2 separate regions of the Homo sapiens genome follow, and region 1 is linked to region 2. The links come from fine-mapping of genetic effects on plasma protein levels. Region 2 holds a variant in brackets. A gene starts in the other region. All regions are shown on their reverse strands. Region 1 holds the start of EPHB4 (EPH receptor B4). Region 2 has its middle 290 kb from the start of LINC00343.

Evidence for each region. PIP is the posterior inclusion probability: the model's chance that the variant is causal. Protein levels are from antibody-based Olink assays in UK Biobank. Linkage for the fine-mapping came from a reference panel and not from the study's own genotypes, which makes the PIPs less certain.
Region 1: EPHB4 starts here. The variant in region 2 is fine-mapped to the plasma level of the EPHB4 protein (UK Biobank, PIP above 0.99).

Annotation. Positions count from the first base shown.
Region 1 is chr7:100,826,151-100,828,650 of GRCh38, reverse strand. EPHB4 (EPH receptor B4) reads left to right here and starts at 1,128. Exons shown (of 17, transcript NM_004444.5): 1 at 1,128-1,672. The coding sequence starts at 1,621. It also overlaps a transcript of SLC12A9 not described here. RefSeq lists an enhancer at 329-1,124.
Region 2 is chr13:105,996,374-105,999,397 of GRCh38, reverse strand. No RefSeq gene overlaps it. Among named protein-coding and RNA genes, the nearest start is that of LINC00343, 290 kb to the right of the region's middle. The variant G/A (reference allele first, on the strand shown) is at 1,654.

The DNA of each region.
Region 1 (2,500 bases), not on the chromosome of region 2:
AAAACACGAGAGTGAGAGTGAGAAGGGCGATTTGGAGATCTAGCCGGACCCCTCACCCTCTCGGACACACCCACCTTTTTTTTTTTTTTTTTTTTTTTTGAGATTTCGTCTCACTCTGTAGCCCAGGCTGGAGTGCAGTGGCGCGATCTCAGCTCCCAGCTCACTGCAACCTCCGCCTCCTAGGTCCCGGTTCAAGCAATTCTCCTGCCTCAGCCTCCCGAGTAGCTAGGATTACAGGCGCGCGCCACCATGCCCAGCTAATTTTTGTATTTTTAGTAGAGACGGGGTTTCATCATGTTGGCCAGGCTGGTCTTGAACTCCTGACCTCAAATGATCCGCCTGCCTCTGCCTCCCAAAATGCTGGGACTACAGGCGTGAGCCACCGCGCCCGCCACACCCACCTTTTCTTTACCGTTGTTTCCTCGATTTTTCTCTACTCCCTAGCGCAGCTTAGTGCGCGCCTCCTCTGGACATTTTTCAGGGCTTGGTTGCGCGCACAGTAGGTCCCCAACACTGAATGTTTATGGGGTGACTGTGTGAACGTTCGCTGCAAGGCTATCCAAACTGGGATTGCTCCTTGAGGCCCCCTGGGCGGCCGTCAATTCTCCAAAGCTTCTACTCCCTTTTCCTTCCTTTTCCCCCAAAACGCAGTCCCTGCGCCCACTAGAGGGTGGTGGGCGCATCCAAGAGCGGCATCTAGAGTCCGCAGCAAGGTCAGAGCGGGCTTTGTGTGCGCGGTGAACATTTACGTGCACGCCTGGGCGGCCCTCCGTGTTGCTGCTGGGTGTGTGTTTTCTCTGCTCCCTGGTGCCAGCCGGGTTCGGGCCTGTCCCGGGGGTCCCTGGGCCCCAGCCCCGACATGCTCGGTCCTGGACAGCGCGCACCGCCACGGCGCACATCTGGGCGGTCCCGGGGTTCCTCACCCGCCGCCCCTCCCCCTTCTCCAAACTTTCTCTCAACTTCCCGACCTGCTCCACTCGGTGCCCCTCTCCGCTTCCCTCATGAATTATTCAGTAGCGTGAGCTCCAATCAGCGCGCCCGGGGCTCACTCGCGGAGCCCCCGCGTTGGGAGAGCTGCCCCCGCCCCCCGCGCGCCCCTCCCTCCCGGGCCCGGCGCCGCCCGGCCCAGTTCCAGCGCAGCTCAGCCCCTGCCCGGCCCGGCCCGCCCGGCTCCGCGCCGCAGTCTCCCTCCCTCCCGCTCCGTCCCCGCTCGGGCTCCCACCATCCCCGCCCGCGAGGAGAGCACTCGGCCCGGCGGCGCGAGCAGAGCCACTCCAGGGAGGGGGGGAGACCGCGAGCGGCCGGCTCAGCCCCCGCCACCCGGGGCGGGACCCCGAGGCCCCGGAGGGACCCCAACTCCAGCCACGTCTTGCTGCGCGCCCGCCCGGCGCGGCCACTGCCAGCACGCTCCGGGCCCGCCGCCCGCGCGCGCGGCACAGACGCGGGGCCACACTTGGCGCCGCCGCCCGGTGCCCCGCACGCTCGCATGGGCCCGCGCTGAGGGCCCCGACGAGGAGTCCCGCGCGGAGTATCGGCGTCCACCCGCCCAGGGAGAGTCAGACCTGGGGGGGCGAGGGCCCCCCAAACTCAGTTCGGATCCTACCCGAGTGAGGCGGCGCCATGGAGCTCCGGGTGCTGCTCTGCTGGGCTTCGTTGGCCGCAGCTTTGGAAGGTGAGTTTCCTTGCGGGGGGGGGCGCACCCCGTCACTCCTGGGACCTCCCCCCCAACATCTGGGCCTCGGAGTGGAGGGGCCGGCCTCTGACTACCCCTACCCGGGCACTGCAGTCCCAAACACTTCGGACCGATAGTGCTGGAACGGGAGGGGGGCGGGGAAGAGGCGCCCGACGGGTAGTGGAGTTTTCTTTTGTTTGGGAAAGAGATGGAGTCTGGCTACGACCCGGGACATTCCCCTGCCCGGGCTCCCCGAACTCTCACTGCTGATTACATACGCCCCTGGCTGCCTTTCCTTTCCTCCCTACCCCACTATTCAAAACTATCTGCAAAGTTTCTGTCCCAGTCCCACCTCCCGCCGTACATGAGGGAAGGTTTCTGGAGAAGCAACAGCAGACAAGGCACAACTTTTCGTGCTAGGCCCTAAAACGACCCCCAGCGCCAATTCCTTAGCGATCACACCTTGATCCTCCAGTTCCACACTCCTGCAACAGGATGGCCTCCTTTGCATTCACACAGCAAACCCCCAAACCGCTCTCCCGCCCACTGCTCCTGCCCCTGGTATAGGGTGGCTCCTTGGTTTCTACAGGCTGCACCCCATCCCTTTAAATGCGGTCTAGACCCCGGCCCCAGGTGAGTCCCGGGCTTCCCTTGAGACCTAGGAGCGGGTAGAAACTGACCTACACAGCCCCCAGGTAGAAACTGACCTACACAGCCCCCACATCGCCCTAACTAACCCAGTCTATCTCCCACCTCCTGGTCTCTCCAAGCATTTCTTTGGCCATGGATCGCTGTCCCTCCTGGTCCCCTAAAGGGGGAGCCAAGAGC
Region 2 (3,024 bases):
CACATAGAGCCTTCTCTAGACCACACAGGTGCTGTCTTCTAAACTGTTGCAGCAGTTTTCTACGTAGGGCCTAATGACCTAAGAACCCCTAAGATCTGAGTCTCCATGGTTAAAGCCCTTCACTCAATGAGACTTGGTGAGGTGCAAATATCATTCCTCACCTTCCTGTTCTTTGGGAAGGATACATTAGAAGAAGCAGCTCAAATCAAATCTCCCCCTTTTATTTTTCTCCCTTTTATATGATGACTCCATTTCTCTGATCCATGTGGCACTTTTCTAAATTGCCCTCTAAACAACATATTAATGTTATTTCCAGATGTTGCCTTATATATAATTCCAGACTTAAGGTGATACAGCCTTTCATCAAGAAAGACTAGTCTTCACCATCCTCCACAGGTTTTTAAAAAAATAATAACCCATATTACACACACACACGTACATACAAATACACACATATGTATGCACACCACACACACGTACTCTACACACACACATTCACACATACATACACACACATGTACATACACATACACACATATGTATGCACACCACACACAATACTCTACACACACATTCACACATACACACACATGTACATACACATACACACATATGTATGCACACCACACACATACTCTACACACACATATTCACACATACATACACACATGTACATACACATAAACATATGTATGCACAACACACACACATACTCTACACACACACATATTCACACATACATACACACACGTACGCACACCACACATACATATATATAGATACACACATACATACACATAAACACATACATATATGTACTAACACCACACACACACACATACCTTGCACATGAGATGTGCAAATGTAGGGACTCTGTCTTTAAGTTTTGAACTTGAAGTTGCTGGTCTAGGATGTTACATGAAAAGCTTAAAACTTCTGGGATAGTTTTTCAGCCTTTGGGACTGGGTTTGAGAAGTGGTTCAGCAGAGGAGCGGAGCCTGCAGGGCTTAGTGTGCATAAATGCGTCTTTGTCTGCGGAATCCTCTAAGTTCAACCACTGTGCGAGAGAAATCTGAGAGTGGGAAGGACAGGGCTAAGAGGATCAAACATGTGTGGTGTCGCCTTCATGGTGATCTGTGTTCCCCTCCGTCTTTCTGCCCGAGGCCCTGTCTTGACAGCTGCCCGTCGCAGTGCACACCAAACCCTCCGTGAATCAAAGCGGAACTTGTCAAAGGGGCCTTTTTGTGGGGTTAAAGGCGATTGGCCTTTCCTAGCTTGGTGGCCCTCATGGAAACAGAAATGAAGTTCCCCCTCAGGCTACCTCCAGCTGCCAAAGTGAGCAGAAAGCATTGCTGTGGCCAGGGCAGGGTGAGGCCTGGGGCCGTGAGACCCCGATCCAGCTGGAGCCTGCCCCTCACTGGCACTAGGCGTGGAGCAAGAGTGGCTGCGGCAGCAGAAATGGGGCATGCAGCCTGCGTGGGCCGGGGCCAGTGAGCACAGGGGGCTCAGTCCTCCTGGGCCGCGGGCTCATCTCCCGCACAACACCGCGTTGTCCTCTCGGAACAGCTGTTTTCATTTCCCCCTCCTTCCTGGAGTGTCATCCAATTATCACTCCCACACACTTCTTGCAGCTGTACTTTATGGATGACAAAC[G/A]TTTTTGCTTTATTGTTCAGGGAGAGCTCCAAACATGAAAAACAGCCGATCATTTATCAAGAGGTTTGAATACTAAATATGCAGCGAGAACCCAGACTGGCTTCGGAGGCGGCAGTCAGCAGCACTGAGGCCTGTCTTCTGGAGGTGTGACCTGTTCAAGTTCAGTCACAGCTTACTGGGGGACAGAGTGTTTTGTGAAAGAGCTAAAATATTGGGTTTTTTTCTTTTTTTTTTTTTAATGCTTTTCTAAAAAGGCTTTGTGCAAGTAACAGAAAGGTGAAAATTATTCACTGTGGTTGGAGCCCGTGAAAAATACGGGGCAGCAGGTTGGTGCAGATGCAGGAAGGGTATGGCTCCACTCCTGGGGTGTCTAACTGTCCTGTTCGCTCGGTACTCAGGAGTTTCCGGGGACGTGAGACCTTCAGTGTTAACAGTGGGACAGTTGGCTGGTTACCCTCTAGCCACTTCTCTCAACTGGCAGAAGGGAGGCTTGTATCCTGGTTTAGATTAAGTCAAAGACAGTTTCTAAACAAAGTAGCTTTAGGGTAAGCCGATTTTTCAGTGTGCTTTAGCGAGGTCCTGGGGATATCACTAATAATTTTGAAAAAGCTCAATCACTTGAACAGTCACAGCTTGCTCCTATGTTCAGACTATCTGCACCACATAGCTACATGTTGCATAGGGCTTAGAAAAATTCGGAGAAGAAAAACTGTGCCCTTTGAGTTCTGGCAGAGAGAGAGAGGAAAAAGATCGCTAGCAAGAGATGTAAGCATGTGTTCATTGGTGGTGATGCTTGCATTTGGTTTCCATTCCTTGTGTGCTGTAGAAAAACACAACAGGCAAGCACAGAGCAACAAGTGCAGTAGGGGCAGGGGAGTGGGCAGGACGCATTGTTTTGCTTTTATAAGATAAATCATCAGCATGCATGGGAAAGGAGCAGCGGTCAGCGGGAGGGTAACCTCGTGAAAGGTGGAATGATATCAGCCTGGCTACCCAACTATGCATCCTTTCTGCGAAGAGAACATGACACAGCTGTTCCAAGGCCTGAGTAGGAGATTAACACGGCAGAAATCACAGTGGCATGTGTGCATTACTTTACCGTTTGCAAAGTACTTTCACCCACTTTATCCTTGTTCGTCCTCACTGCACACCCTGAGATGTGGGGCGGGCAGGGCAAAGATTAGTAACTTCATTCTTAGAAATGGGGATGCCAGCTGGGCGAGGAGCTTGCTTCGGATCACATGGCTAATTAAATCAGAGAGCCAGTACTGAGTCCTGGTCTTCCGGACCCTATTCCACTAGAAAGTTTAACATTTTAAAGGTTGTCAGTGTGAATACAAAACCATGGAAATACATACTAGTAGAACCTTC